Homo sapiens: one gene and its partners. The protein of the gene in region 1 purifies or fractionates together with the protein of each later gene. This does not show direct contact. Each region holds a gene or a part of one and is shown in the gene's direction. Other genes may lie near its edges.

Evidence for each region.
Region 2: the proteins of CCDC174 (region 1) and BPIFA2 purify together in Homo sapiens (affinity purification with mass spectrometry; one large-scale study listed by BioGRID and IntAct). This does not show direct contact.
Region 3: the proteins of CCDC174 (region 1) and LZIC fractionate together in Homo sapiens (co-fractionation; one large-scale study listed by BioGRID). This does not show direct contact.

What each region holds. Positions count from the first base shown.
Region 1 is NC_000003.12:14,649,801-14,655,586, forward strand, and holds the start of CCDC174 (coiled-coil domain-containing protein 174), read left to right. Parts: upstream 1-1,961; 5' UTR 1,962-2,036; coding exon 2,037-2,078; exon of another isoform or gene 2,079-2,321; intron 2,322-4,625; coding exon 4,626-4,730; intron 4,731-5,728; coding exon 5,729-5,786. UniProt on the Homo sapiens protein: Probably involved in neuronal development.
Region 2 is NC_000020.11:33,173,806-33,179,007, forward strand, and holds part of BPIFA2 (BPI fold-containing family A member 2 precursor), read left to right. Parts: intron 1-273; coding exon 274-381; intron 382-1,601; coding exon 1,602-1,754; intron 1,755-4,341; coding exon 4,342-4,423; intron 4,424-5,202. UniProt on the Homo sapiens protein: Has strong antibacterial activity against P.aeruginosa.
Region 3 is NC_000001.11:9,936,043-9,941,244, reverse strand, and holds part of LZIC (protein LZIC), read left to right. Parts: intron 1-4,617; coding exon of another isoform or gene 4,618-4,625; coding exon 4,626-4,726; intron 4,727-5,202.

The sequences.
Region 1 (5,786 bases):
TTTTCTTTCAGAAGATTTGTAACAAAAACACATGGAATTTAGTATGTGTTTCAGTAAAATGGGTAAATACAGAATCTGAACAAGACAAGTCTATAAGGTATAATCCTTCTTGTGGGGACAGAACATTCCACTCCATTAAGAAAAGAGAATCACAACATTATTAGGCCCGATTATCTCATATTGCTTACTGTTCTAATTTCAGAGACTGGCGGACTTGGAGAAATAAACAAATGAAAATAAATAAATAAGACTGAACACAGTCAACTGCCTCAATTCCCCTCTCCTTTTCCCTTTTCCCATTTTCTCCATAAAGACAGATGAGATGAGGATGTGATGAGTCTCATTTTTCTTCTCTCTAATATGGTGGATAATAGGTCCGCTTCTAGGATTCTTGCAAGGATTATATAATATAATCTATGCAAAGAGTCATACACATGCCCCACATATACTAAATGCCACTGTTACAATCATTATGATCACTTTCGTCTTGCTGCTGTAACAAATTGCCACAAGTTTGGTGGCTTAAAACAACACAAACGTATTCTGGTAGAGTTCTGGAAGTCAGAAGTTTGAGATGAGTGTTACAAGACTAAAATCACCGTGTCAGCAATGCTGCATTCCTTCTGGAGACTCTGGAGGAGGGCTCATTTCTTTGCTTTTTCTAGCGGCCTCCTGCATACCTAGGCATGTGGTCCCACTCTCCCTCTTCAAAGCATCTCTGATCTCTGTCTGACTCTGGCCATCCTGTCTACCCCTTATAAGGATGGTTTTGATGATAGGGGACCCACCTGCACAATCCAGGCTAGCTCCCCATCTCAATCGCTTTAATTTCATCATCTCTGCCAATTCTCTTTTGCTATATAAAGGTCACCATATACCCAGATTCTGGGGATTAGAAGGTAGACATCTGGGAGTCGGGGTGAGGGTGATTGGTCTGTCTACCATAATCATTAACATTTTTATCAAGACTAGCTCATTTAACTCATCTAATCCTCACTAAGACCCATTAGGTAAATAAAATTATATCCCCCTTTGGAAACTGAGGCACACGGAAGTTAAGTAACTTGCCCAAGGTCACACAAGCAGTAAGCCGTGAAGAGCGATTCCAACCCAGAAAGTCAGCTTTCGAGTTCACGTGTTCTTTGTTTTTTTTTTTTTTGATCTCGACTCACTGCAACCTCCACCTCCCAGGTTCAAGCGATTCTTCTGCCTCAGCCTCCTGAGTAGCTGGGAATACAGGCGCGCACCACCACGCTCGGCTAATTTTTTTTTTTTCTTGTATTTTCAGCAGAGACGGGGTTTCACCATGTTGGTCAGGCTGGTCTCAAACTCCTGACCTCCTGATCCACCCGCCTCAGCCTCCCAAAGTGCTGGGATTACAGGCGTGAGCCACCGCGCCCGGCCCAGGAGTTCACGTTCTTAAGAGCTGAAATATGTAAAGTGGCCCATAATAAGCACTACATTAATGTTAGCTATTATTCTTGTTATTTCTACTAAGATTAATATAATAATCCTTATCTCGTACGCTCTTTTAAGAACCAACTATTTAACGTGTGAAAAGTGCCAGGCAGCAGGTCCTGGAATTGCAGTTAAGATTCTTCCGGTCCTCCCAATCCACCTTTCCCGAGACGCTCGAGTTCACTTACTTAAGCGTCAGCCTTCCCCAAGATGGCGTTATCTTTGTCGCCAACCCCACATCCGCCCCACCCAATATGGCGTCCATCGCAATCAAAAGCTTTATTCCGCCCTTCTCAAGATGGCGCCCACACCAATCCTTGTTACCTTCCGCCCTCAAGATGACCTTAGCAGTTAGCGTCAACCTCCGCACTCTATGACCTTTCCAAAATGATGGTGAACGTAATACGCACCACACTCTGACCTTCTCAAGATGGCGCTGAGCTGACAAACTCGCGTCGCAAACTCACGCAAACTCAGTGTCGCTGTCGAAGACACTTCCGGTTGCGACGGAGGTAGGCTTACGAGGCCTGTGTCGGGTAGAAAGGGTCCTTCCTGGACCGGGACCCTCTGCCACGACCATGGACCGTAGGAAAAAGCCTTTGGACGTCACGGCCTCCTCGGTGAGTGAGGGTATGAGGTAACTCCACGGGCTCCGGGTTCACCGTGTCTCCATCAGACAAGAATGTCGACCTAGCTTGTTTCTTCACTCGGGGACCCAGAGACCTGACCTCTCCCCTCAAACAGGAACCCCCGAACTGGATTTTCTTCTCCGGCGGGGATCCGGTTCAGTTTTCTTACAGGACCCTGAATTGGGCTACTCTCCTCTGACATGCGCCCGGGCCAGAACCCTCGGACACGGATCTGAACCTGGTGTCCCGTGGGTTAGGAAACTCCGTGCCTCACCTCTGCCCTGCCCACAAGGACCTGCACCTCGTCAGCCTTCTCCCTTACAGTCAGGAGGAACCCTAGCTTCTTTTTGCTATGCAGACATATCCTCTTCCTGGTTTCTCCTCCATCCAGGGACCCACAAAGTCCTCCCAGAACTTTAGAGTGTGACATATTTCGCAGGACCCGAAAGTGTCCAGCGTGCCCTCCCTGGAACTAAACAGTTGTTAATGCAGGCATAGGGAGTTGTGAGGTCTGAAAGGATGTAAGCAGATTTATTACATCAGCTACTCTAGAAAGAAAACTTGTTCTAAGTACACATTTTGTGCCAGCACTTTATATGCACTATCTCATTGAATCCTCCCAATGGCTTTAGGAGGTAGGTGCTATTAATATCTCCGTTTTATGGATGATGAAATTGAGGCCTGGAAAGATGAAGTAGCTTTCCCCAGCTTACAGACAGAAATCTTAGTGATAGCCGGGCGCGGTGACTCACGCCTGTAATCCCAACACTTTGGGAGGCTGAGGCGGGCAGATCACCTGAGGTCGGGAGTTTGAGACCAGTCTGACCAACATGGAGAAACCCCGTCTCTACTAAAAATAAAAAAATTAGCCGGGCGTGGTGGTGCACGCCTGTAATCCCAGCTACTCGGGAAGCTGAGGCAGGAGAATCGCTTGAACCGGGGAGGCGGAGGTTGCGGTGAGCCGAGATCGCGCAATTGCACTCCAACCTGGGCAACAAGAGCGAAACTCCGTCTAAGGGGCGGGGGGCGGGGGGAAGAAATCTTAGTGATAGACCCTTTCTCACTCACTCTACTTGACTCCAAAGCTGCTGCCTTTTCATCATCAGAGCAAATTGCCCAACCTTTGATTTAATCTTGAATTTACTTCAGAGTATTAGGACACAAAGTGAGTAGGAAGGAAAACATATAGGTGTCCCAATATTTGAGTACTAGTTATTATTGGTAACTATTATTGGTTAAAATTGGTACCAGTTATTATTTTGTTTGAAGATCAGGAACCAGAAAGCTATAAATATTAAAGCCAACCTATACTGACAGGTTAGCAGTAATTGTAATAAGAATGCTATTTGAGAATTTACATTTTTTTGAGCATCTCTTAAAGTTAAAGGCAGTTGTAGACTAGGAAGATATGTGGCTGGAAAATTTGGTGTGGTTAAGTAAGCTTAGAAGAAAAAGTAGAAGTTTTTCATTTGTTTTTAAAAATTTCCAGTATTAGGGTCTGCAGTGAAACTGCCCTTTGCATTATTAAATGGTTACCTTTTAAATCGATTTCTTCCAAAACGGAAATTGAACCCAGCCATTTTTATCTTCCTTAACAAATAAAGTGATTTTTTTAAGTATCTGATGATTAAGACAGTGATGAAGTATCTGATTTACAAATGCCCATCCATATAAGCAGCTGTACCTGGACCATTAAAAAGGAAACTGTTGTTATATCCTTTTTTGCAGAGTAGGCAGGGGTAATTAATGTAGCTGAGGGAAAGGTACTAATATTCACCCAACTGCCCCACTCCCTATGCCTTGGCCTTCTTTCCTGTTCTTGAACCGTGTGATTCAGCCAAGCTTACGGTTTTTGAAATGGATTAAGTCAAACGTGGAGCTGTTATAATTCACCCAGTCTATTTTATTTCTAGCTGTTGAAATAATGTGTCTTTAAAGGCTCTGCTCTAAGCTTTCTCTGATCACTCTGCTCAGAAGGAAATGCTCTGTTATCTGAACTTATGTGCTACTTTCTTCCACTCTAGAGTCATTTGTTTTATTTTGTTGGTAGTATAAATTACTTTCCTTGTTACATTGTAGGCTCTTTGAGGCAGAGAGTATGTCTAATTCATGTTTATGTTCTGCTCTTCAGCGTTATTTCTACAGCATTTCACTGTAGAAATAAGTTGTGATGATGAAATGAGTGCAGTGCTAGTCAGAGAGAAGGTGCTTAATAATGCAAGTTTAATCTGAAACTAAAAGATGCAGACTTTATTAATTTATTTTGCTTTATCACTTTCTCCTTGCCTAAGGAAAGCCTCGAGTGTTGAAAGTCAGAGTAAAAATGCATTTGCAGCAGAGGTAGAATGAAACATGACTTAGCTTAATTTGTGTACTGGATTCTACATTTAAACATTTAGTTACTTAAACATTTAGTTTTTTAGCCATATTTGTCCATTTAGCGGAACTTGAAATATTCCTTTGGAAATTATAATAATTTAGCAATCCAGTCACCTGCAGGAATTTAATATTTTTGTTTACTTACTGCTTTCATTCTAGTTGGTAGATCTTAAGGCTGAACTCTTCCGAAAGCAAGAAGAATTCAAACAAGAAAAACTTCTAAAAGATTCTGGAGTTTTTGGAAAACCAAAAACAACTAACAAGGTAAAAAATAAGATCTAATTATCTCCATTGGTTCCAAACATGGGAGAATTATACCATATTTAAGTGTTTTAAAATTGTCAGTGGTATCTGTACACATAAATGTTAAGGAAAAATCTCTATCTTGTATTTAACATCTGCATGAAATGTTATTAAAATAGAAATTAGTAAGATTATATAAAAGTACATAGTAATGTGCTAATTCTTTAGCACTTCTTTTGGAAAAATGTGGATTGTTTACATTTCATAAACAGATGGAAGGTTATCTGGTTCTATAAGTGTTAGGTATCCAAATAGAGATAAACAATTAGATAATATAGGAATATAGCGGAAAATATCAGGGTGTATAAGAGCTGTGAATTTTTCCAGTTTTATAGGTAATAGTGTCTACTATTTGTATTACTAATTCTCTGTAATATGTACATTTTCATTAATCTTGATTTAGGTTGTAATCATTCAGGAGATAAAAGATAGTAGGAAGTGATTCTGCACTCAGGAAGCTCTTTAGGCTGGGCGTGGTTCCCACGCCTCTAATCCCATCTCTTTGGAAGGCCGAGGCAGGCAGATCACTTGACCCCAGGAGTTCGAGACCCGCCTGAGCAACATGGCAAAACCCCGTCTCTACAAAAAAAAATTAGTCAGGCATGGTGGTGCGCACCTGTATTCCCAGCTACTTGGGAAGCTGAGGTGGGAGGATCACTTGAGCCCAGGATGTTGAGGCTGCAGTGAGCTGAGATCGCACCACCACACTCCAGCCTGGGTGACAGAGTGAGATCCTGTCTCAAAGAAAAAAAAAAAAGTTATTTATATAATTGAGGGCTCTTTTTTTAGCTCCTGCTTGCCATGTATAGTCAGTATCTTTGTAGGACACAGCTTATCTAGTTATCTCCATTGATTCATAAGAACTCATGATCTCCTTTGTTTTTTTTTTTCCTGATGCACAAGTAGAGATTTTTTGGCAATCATGTGGTTCTGTTTTGTCTTCTAAAATTATTCTCCAGAAACCAAGTATCTGGAGCAAACAGAATGTAGGCGTTTCAAATCGAGCTGAGAAGGATG
Region 2 (5,202 bases), on another chromosome or scaffold:
ACTCATGAACTTTTAAAGTCAGATAGTTCTGGCCTCAAAATCTGCCTCTGGCACTTACTCCCCTAGGAATCTGGGGGAAAATCACACCAGCCTGAGCCTCAGTGTGCTGTGCCATAAAATACAGAGAATCAAACCTCTGAACAGGGCTATAGTGAAGACTAAAGAAGGCAAGGCTGACGAGACCCAAACGCTCAGCTCGAGGCTGGCCCAGGGAAGTGGTTGGCAAGTGGCTGTCATGAGGAGTGACAAGGGTGAATTGTGGGTTTCACACAGGTTGAAAATCAGCAACTCCCTCATCCTGGATGTCAAAGCTGAACCGATCGATGATGGCAAAGGCCTTAACCTGAGCTTCCCTGTCACCGCGAATGTCACTGTGGCCGGGTGAGTATGCACTAGAATCTGAGATTTGGGAAAGGCAGTGCAACCTGGCCGATGGATGCCCAACCTGGGAATCGGGCACCTCCTCCCGCTGCTGGGTGAACTTGGGCCTCAGTTTCCCAATCTGTGAGTGAGAGAACCCTTCTGGGTCTAAGATCTTAACCCTTAAAATGTTCTAGAGAACTCTGGCCATAAGCAAGTGTCTTTTAAAAACAATGCTCCATTGAATATAGTTTTGAAATCATGACATTTATCTGGTTTTAAAATTTGAAAAGTTGAGATAACAAACATTTATCATTCTTTGGCAAAATTTCCTCCAGCATTATTTTGTCCCTCAAGATTCTCTCTAAGTTGCAGTGACCACTACAGAAAAATTCATACAATAATACACAGTGTATAATAAAGTGTGTGTGTGCAAAATATAAGTTTAAACTCTTTTAAGTTTAGCTGGGAGTGGTGGCTTATACCTGTAATCCCAGCAATTTGAGAAACTGAGGTGGGAGGATTGCTTGAGCTCAGGAGTTCGTGACCAGCCAGGACAATATGACAAAACCCTGTCTCTACAAAAAATACAAAAATTAACCAGGTGTGGCAGCACACGCCTGTAGTCCCAGCTACTTGGGAGGCTGAGGCAAGAGGATTGCTTGAGCCGGAGAGGTCGAGGCTGCAGTGAGCCGTGATTGCACCACTGCATTCCAGCCTGGGCGACAGAGTGAGACCCTGTCTCACAAAAAATAAAAAATTTTAATTTTAAAGGAGATAGACAAGAAATGAGCATGTGTGAAAGCACTTCTGTAAACTACATGCACTAATGATGCCACCCATTATTTAGCTATGAGATCTTGGGATAGTTACTTAACCTCTCTGTACCAAGGTTTCCTCATTCAGAAAATAGGGATAGTAATAAATGAATCCAGGTAAAATACTTTTTTAAAGTACCTACACATAAATTGTTGTCAATAAATGTTAACTATTATTATTTTACTTATTAGTGTAATGTTGTATAAAAAATTCATATGAGCTAAACCCAAGTGGCCAGGAGAAGAAGCCCCTAATATAAACATGTAAATCTCATAGAGGATATGGACCATGTTGATATTACCTGGGCCATGTTGACATTACACATAGACATTCTGACTCATGTCCACACAGGTGGAGGAACCCAACTGGGCAACAGGCAGGAACTTCTAGACTTTGTTCACTGTGCATCTTACTTCCTGCAGGCCCATCATTGGCCAGATTATCAACCTGAAAGCCTCCTTGGACCTCCTGACCGCAGTCACAATTGAAACTGATCCCCAGACACACCAGCCTGTTGCCGTCCTGGGAGAATGCGCCAGTGACCCAACCAGCATCTCACTTTCCTTGCTGGACAAGTAAGTCCCATTCATCTTAGTAGAGCTGGGCTCTCAGGGAACTTGAGGACCCCTAATTTCAGCTCTAGTCCTCTACCTAAGAGGAGGCCTAGTGGTGAAAGTGTTCAGGCTCTGGAGTCATGTTGACCTTGGTTTACACATCAGCTCTGCCACTAACTTGTAACTTTATCACCAACTTGACCCAGGCCTGTTTTCACATCTGTAAACTGGGGGTGTTCATAATAACTACTCATAGGCTTCTGAGATGACCAGATGAGAAAATACAAATATTTAGCACGCAGCCTGGAACATGCTGCCTCTCTGCCTGCTGGTTCTCTCCATTACTGAGACTGGAGTGTTGAGCTCCCCACCATAATCATGGATTTGTTCATTTCGCCTTTCAACTCGGTCAGTTTCTGCTTCATACCCTTTGGAGCTCTGTTGTTAGGTGCATGCACATTAGGATTGTTATGACTTCTTGGAGAATTGTCCACTTTATTGTTATGTAATGTCCCTCAATAATAATAATAATAATAACGATAAAATTATATTTACCTTCTTGCCTCCAGTTGGGAGGGAGAGGGGAGAGTAAGTGCCTGCCACGGGCTCTAATTTCAGATTGTCCCCAAATCATCCTCCACCCAGTGGAAATTTCCTGAAAGGAGATCTTGAAAACTTAATCCTCTCCATTTGACTCACTGATCCCTTTTAATCCACAAAATCTACATCTTAAGCTCTGTGCCTGAAAGAGCAGGTTTGACTCAGGCAAGAGGGTGGAAGGAGAAAGAGTGATGCTGGCCGATGGCTGGGAGAGGATGAATGACCCAGAAGCTGAGGGCTGGGGCTACTTGGCCTTGGCCAGGAGCAAGGCTGGGTCCTCAGCTCTCAGCCCCTGTGGCCATGAGCAGAGGACACTCCACTCGCCCTGCACTGAGGGATCTGAACACAGGTTGCTCAAAGACCCCTGAAAACCAAAGAAAGTTTCCATAGCCTGATGTGAGTTGCGAAGGCCGGGGTGTAAATTCAGAGGCTGGAGCCTGGCTGGGTGCTATCTTCCCAAGTAGCCTCAGGGACGCCATCCTGCTGCACTAGGTCTGTGCCCACATCTGTGAGATGGCACCACTCTGAGGCTCCAGATCCTCCCAGGGTCTTTCTTTGCACTTGTGGTTCAATCCCAAGTGCTCCCCATGGTCATGAAGGCTCTGTTTGATCTGGCCCCACCCTTGTATCCCTGTACCCTCCCCTTACTCACTGTGCCCAGATACAGTGGCCTTTGTGCCATGTCTCAGATAGGCTGTTTCTCAAGGCTCTTTCCCAGCTTAAGACCTTTGCCTGGGGTGCTCTGGCTACCTAGAGCACCTTCTTCTCACTCCACTTTGATGGACTTTTGCATCCTTCAGGGCCTTCCCAGGGCTCCTCCTATTCTCTCTCGTAAGAGTCTAACTCTTGCCTTTAAAGCACTCGTCACAAGTTCTCAATATATATTTAATTGTATGTTCACTTCTTTCATTCTTTCAGCCAAAAATGTATTGAGGCTGGGCACGATGGCTCCACACCGGTAATCCCAGCACTTTGGGAGGCTGAGGTGGGTGGATCACTTGAGGTCAGGAGTTCAAGACCAGCTTGGCCAACATGGCAAAATCCTGTCTCTACTAAAAATACAAAAATTAGCCGGGGGTGGTGGCGGTTTCCTGTAATCCCAGCTACTCGGGACGCTGAGGCACAAGCATTGCTTGAACCCAGGAGGCAGAGGTTGCAGTGAGCCGAGATCGTGCCACTGCACTCCAGTCTGGGTGACAGAGCAAGACATTGTCTCAAAAAAAAAAAAAAAAGTGTATTGAGCATCTGCTGTGTGCCAGGCAGGCACCATTCTGGGCTCTGGAGAACTGATTGGTGATGACAGACAAGGTCCCTGTTCTTGCGGAGCTTACCCAAGGGAAAGCTAAGCTGCCGTGGATCTGTGTCCACATCTGTGAAATGACACCACTCTACAGCTCCAAATCCTCTCAGCGCTTTTCTTTGCACTTTGGATCCAATCCAACCCAAATTCAGTCCATCGGTAAAGAACGCTCCAGGGAAATGAGTCCTGCAGAAAGCATTACCCTTAACTGGGCACTGTGATAGCAAAGCTCTCTCTTAGGTAAGCAGTCAGGGAGGGGTGCCCTGAGGAGGTGGCAATTATACTAAGAGTTGAAGGTGGGAGGAGCCAACTTTGGCAAGATTTGTTTAGGTACCACATCAGGGTATGTTTGGACCCTTAATGTTTAGGTACCAGGTTAGGGGATGTTTGTACTTTACTTATTCGGTATCCTCAGGGCCCAGCTAGGTTCCTGGTGCATAGCTGGTGCTCTGTAAATACGGGTTGAATGAGTGAACGAATAAGGTCTCTGCGCTGAGAATCTCATGAGGCACTGGGGTGAGCCGCTGGTCAGATGTGGGAGTCTAAGTGATGATCCATGTGGATGGGAGGCTCTGTCTGTTAAAGTGTCTCCATGTCCCTGGGGTTTATCTGACTCCACAGTATTTCCCGCACCGCCCCCAACTTTTTGGCAGTTCTCCCATCTCTTGCCCACTTGACCAGACTTTAATAGTTCCCTGTGTTTTCCAGACACAGCCAAATCATCAACAAGTTCGTGAATAGCGTGATCAACACGCTGAAAAGCACTGTATCCTCCCTGCTGCAGAAGGAGGTGAGTCTCCCACTCCTTGGAGCCCAGATCCAGGCCTGGTGGGGGCAGGTGGGGGAATTTGCAGGCCTGGCTGTATCCTCTGAGCACTTTTCCTTCGGAGGTGAAAGCTTCTCCTTAGGAGGTCAGCTGGAGCTTCCTCCTCTACTAATCAGCCTGGTGGGTAGCAGGGTAGAGCAGAGGCCTGACATTAGCTGAAATTGCCAGGTCCCAAACTTGAGCCTCTCACCATATCCACGCACTACCAATATGCTTTTGTAGCTAACATCTTCAACACAATTTTACTTAAATATGTTTCTTTAGAAGCATTTATTTTTAAAAATAAAACTTTATATCCCTATCATAAATAGAAAATTAATATCACATATCATACAATCAATGGACTTATAAAATAGTTTTAATTTTTTTTCCATCTGTGCATCATCCAAAACCATAGGTACCATGTGCAGGATTACTAGGCCCAAAGTTGCAGAGATTCTAAATCAGTCATTCTGGAAGCAGACCCAGGAATGTGGGTTTATAAAAGAAAAATCCTCCGGATGGCTCTGTGACCCACTGAACCGGAGTTTAGTTATATTCCAAAAGCGATCCTCCACCAGCTTCAGCCTCAGCTGGGTGCTTGATAGGAATGCGGAATCTCAGGCCACACCCCAGACCTGCTGAATTGCAATCTGCGGGGAACTGTGTACACACAGGAGCAAGAGATACTCCGCTCTACAACCTCAGGGCAAATGCCTCAGGGCACCATTTGACCCTTTAAAATTCCAGGGTTCCAAAGTTCA
Region 3 (5,202 bases), on another chromosome or scaffold:
CCACCTGGGTGACCGTGAGACGCCATCAAAAAAAAAAGAAAGAGGAAAGAAAGAACGAACGAACGAAAGAAAGAAAAGGTAAAATCCCTACTTAAATAATTCACAACCTAGTGATTGGGAGGAAATCAAGGAAGACCTTGTAGAGAAGGTGACACTTGAACTAGACTTTGAAGAATGAACTGGGCTTCATAGGTAGAAAAAAAAATGCAGGCTCAAAAAAGTGCATGACATTTTTGGAACAGCAAGTCATCCAGTGTGGTTAGACTGTAGGAAACTAACTCTGAAAAGACATTGTCAGTTACATCTTGGGTTTGCCTTGACTTTTACTGGAAAATTCCACAGACTTAAGAGAAAAATTAAAATGGACAATTTCCAGGAAAAATCCACTAAACTATTATACATAAGATGTAGCTACAATAAATTACACTTCTGGGTATAATACTTGTTTATGTTTGCATATCATTAATGATCATAGATGACTTATGCCAATTTTAATAGATTAGGTAGTAATTTTTTGTCATTATATTTAATTTTGAATATACTGTAAGAATCCTCTCCAATGAAGTACACATGTCAAATCATCTGGTAATGATTTCATTATGTGTAGGAAAATAAAACATGCTTTAATGCTGTGTGCGGTGGCTCACGCCTGTAACCCCAGCACTTTGGGAGGCCGAGGCGGGCGGATCACGAGGTCAGGAGATTGAGACCATCCTGGCTAACATGGTGAAACCCTGTCTCTACTAAAAAAAATATACAAAAACTAGGCCGGGTGCAGTGGCTCACGCCTGTAATCCCAGCACTTTGGGAGGCTGAGGTGGGCGGATCACGAGGTCAGGAGATCGAGACCATCCTGGCTAACACGATGAAACCCCGTCTCTACTAAAAAATACAAAAAAAATAAGCTGGGCGTGGTGGCGGGTGCCTATAGTCCTAGCTACTCGGGAGGCTGAGGCAGGAGAATGGTGTGAACCCGGGAGGCGGAGCTTGCAGTGAGCTGAGATTGCTCCACTGCACTCCAGCCTGGGCGACAGAGCAAGACTCTGTCTCAAAACAAACAAAAAACATGTTTTAATAAGTTACCTGGAAAGTTTTGTGGTTTGTTTTTTGTTTTTTGTTTTTTTTTGAGTAGGAGTCTCACTCTGTCTCCCAGGCTGGAGTGCAGTGTCACAATCTCAGCTCACTGCAACCTCTGCCTCCAAGGCTTGGATGATTCTCCCACCTCAGCCCGCCAAGTAGCTGGGACTACAAGCACACACCACCATGCCCAGCTAATATTTTAATTTATTGTAGAGACGGGGTTTCGCCGTGTCGGCCAGGCTGGTCTGTAACTCCTGGTCTCAAGTGATCTGCCTGCCTTAGCCTCCTAAAGTGCTGGGATTACAGGTGTGAGACACCATGCCTGGCCCCAGTCAATAGGATATTTAATGAAACTTGACATACTGATTGTTAAATTCATCTGGAAGAGAAAGTGCACAAGAAGAGCCAAGAATTTTGGGGAGGAGAAAACAATAAAGGCAAGTCATTATCAGTTATCGAGATATATCAGTGATAAAGCCATAATAATGTAAATAGCAAGAAATGTTGCCTGAGGGCTGGACACAGTGGCTCATGCCTGTAATCCCAGCATTTTAGGAGGCCAAGGCCAACATGGCGAAACACTGTCTCTACTAAAAATACCAAAAAAAAAAAAAAAAAAAAAGGCAGATGTGGTGGCACACCTGTAATCCTAGCTACTCAGGAGGCTGAGGCAGGAGAATCACTTGAGCCCAGGATGTGGAGGTTGCAGTGAGCTGAGATCACATCACTGCACTCCAGCCTACTGCACTCCAGCCTGGGTGACAGAGCGATACTCTGTGTCAAAAAAAAAAGAAAAAAAAAAAAGCCAAGTGGGGTGCCTCATGCCTGTAATCCTAGCACTTTGGGAGGCTGGGGTGAGTGGATCATTTGAGGTCAGGAGTTCAAGACCGACCTGGCCAATATGGCAAAACCACATTTCTACTAAAAATACAAAAATTAGCCGGACGTGGTGGCACGCACTCAAGAGGCTGAGGCAGGAGAATTGCTGAAACCCAGGAGGTGGAGGTTGCAGTGAGCCGAAATCGTGCCACCGCACTCCAGTCGGGGCGACAGAGCAAGACTCAGTCTAAAAAAAAAAGAAGTGATTCCTTAGGAACAGAAAATTATCAATGACTAGCCAATTGCCCTAATACCCTTTACTAGTCAGTCTTTTATTTATTAATCAATATGCCACCTTTATTGTAGACCAAATTCTCCTGGATCAATAAATAAAAGACTGATTAGTAAAGGGTGTTTTTGAAAGGAAAGTTAGACCCCTACTTCAAAGCATAACAAAAAATGTTGCAGGTGGCTTTTGTCTGCAGCTAGAAAACAAAAATTTGTAAAAGTCTTGAATATAAAGATGTATAAATCTTGAGATGGTTAGGGCCTGCCTTCATGGGTCACAAAACGAAGAAGATTTAAAGGAGAAGATAGATTTGTCTATTAAAAAATAATAATTTGCCATGACAAAAAAACATAAAATTTAGTCAGGAGACGAAATAATATTTGCAATTACAAAGGCTTCATTGCTTGATCTTAGGAGGTCAAAGCTGCATGAGCCATGATCATGCCACTGCACTCCAGCCTGGGTGACAGAGCAAGACCCTGTCTCAAAAAAGCCAAAGGCTTTGTATCCATGTTATAAATCAGTAAGAGAAAGATAACCCAGCAGAAAGATGGTCACATTTCCAAAGAAGAAATTCATATTAAAAGATGTTCATCAGCTGGGCTTGTGGGCTTACACCTATAATCCCAGCATTTTGGGAGGCTGAGGTGGGAGGATCTCTTGAGCCCAGTTCAAGACCAGCTTGGGCAACATGGGAGACCCCATCTCTACAAAAAAATAAATTAGCCAGGTGTGGTGGTGTGTGCCTGTGTTTGCAGCTACTCAGGAGGCAGAGGTGGGAAGATGGCTTGAGCTCGAGAGGTTGAGGCTATAGTGAGCTATGATTGTGCCACTGTGCTTCAGCCTAGGCAACAGAGTGAGACCCTATCTCAAAAAAAAGTTCATGCTCACAAGTAATTAGGTCAATATACATAAGACCAATAAGATAATATCTGGAGTGTTTGGGGCTATAATGATTCATTTTATAAAGCAAAGTCACATTTGATCTACATATATATATATATTTCCATTTACCAAATTTGTTTAGAGTAAGATAGACCAATAATGAAGACTTCTAATTAATATGTCAAGTCACATAAAGAGGACTTTCAGGTATTTTTGTGGGGTGTTATTACTATATGAGTTTAAACTTTTATATCTAAATTAAGATTTTCTTTGTTTAACTATCTTTCATATACCTGTAGCTTTTTTTTTTTTTTTTTTTTTTTTGAGTCAGGGTCTCGCTCTGTCAACCAGGCCAGAGTGGAGTGGCAAGATCATGGCTCACTGCAACCTCAAATTCCTGGGCTCAAGCAGTCCTCTCACCTAAGCCTCCTGAGTAGGTGGGACTAGAGGCATCCGCCACCATGCCTAGCTAAGATTGTCTATTCTTTGTAGAGATGAAGTCTCACTATATTGGCCAGGCTGGTCTCGAACTCCTGGGCTCAAGCAATCCTCCCACCTCAGGCTCCCAAAGTGTTGAGATTACAGACATGCGTGAGCCACTGCACCCAGCTGCCTTTTTTTTTTTCTGAAATGTAGTCTCACTCTGTTGCCCAAGCTGGAGTGCAGTGGCGTGATCTCAGCTCACTGCAACCTCTGCCTCCCAGGTTCAAGCAAGCCTGCTGCCTCAGCCTCCCAAATAGCTGGGACTACAGGTAATTTTTTTTTCTTTTTTTTTTTTTGAGCCTGAGTCTTGCTCTGTCGCCCAGGCAGGAGTGCAGTGGCGTGATCTCGGCTCACTGCAAGCTCTGCCTCCCGCGTTCACACCATTCTCCTGCCTCAGCCTCCCAAGTAGCTGGGACTACAGGCGCCTGCCACCACGCCTGCCTAATTTTTTATATTTTTAGGAGAGACGGGGTTTCACCGTGTTAGCCGGGATGGTCTCAATCTCCTGACTTCATGATCCGCCCACCTCAGCCTCCCAAAGTGCTGGGATTACAGGCGTGAGCACCGTGCCTGGCCTTTTTTTCTCTTTAGAGATGGGGTTTCCCCCATGTTGCTCAGGCTGGTCTTGAACTCCTGACCTCAGGTGATCCACCCACCTCGGCTTCCAAAAGTGCTGGGGTTACAGGCGTGAGCCACCACATCCGGCCTTTTTTGTATTTTTAGTAGAGATGGGGTTTCACCATGTTAGCCAGGATGGTCTTGATCTCCTGACCTTGTGATCCACCCGCCTCGGCCTCCCAAAGTGCTGGGATTACAGGCCTGAGCCACCGGCGCCTGGCCGCAGCTGCATATTTTTAATTGCACTAGGGACTGGGTGTGGTGGCTTATGCCTATAATCCCACCTCTTTGGTAGTCCAAGATGGGAGGGTCACTTTAGGCCAGATGTTCCGAGACCAGCCTGGGCAACATAGTGAGACTCTGTCTCTACAAAAAATAAAACTTAAAAAAATTGCACTGGTATGTTAATTTCATATGGTATGTGGGTTTATTGTTTCACATAGAGATTAAAATGGCTTCCAGAGGAAAGACAGAGACAAGCAAATTAAAGCAGAATTTAGAAGAACAGTTGGATAGACTCATGCAACAATTACAAGATCTGGAGGAATGCAGGTAAGAGTTTAATTGTATGTTGTTATGCTGGAAACTGGCGTTTTTTCTGCAGCTAGCTCCGTGGATGCAGGCCCATGTGTGATGATTCTGCATTCCCCTGTAGTGTTCTTTGCAGTGCTTTGTCTATTAGAGAAGTAAACTTATTGCAGGCTTTGGAGTCATAAAGGCTGGGAAATGAAAGTCATTCAGTTAACTACTAAGTGCATGTGAACTTGAGCAAAATACTTACCTTCCTTGAAGTAGAAATAACACCTACTTTGTCTTTAGTATTTAAATCAGTCCTACCTGCTGTCAGGCTAAGAAGGTACTACTTGAACTTCTGGCATGTAGTTTCAGCCTTACCTGCACAAAGGACCACAACAGTTCATTGCAGCTTTTTTTTTTTTTTTTGAGACAGAGTCTTGCTGTATTGCCCAGGCTGGAGTGCAGTGGCGAGATCTCAGCCCACTGCAACTTCTGCTTCCCAAGTTCAAGCG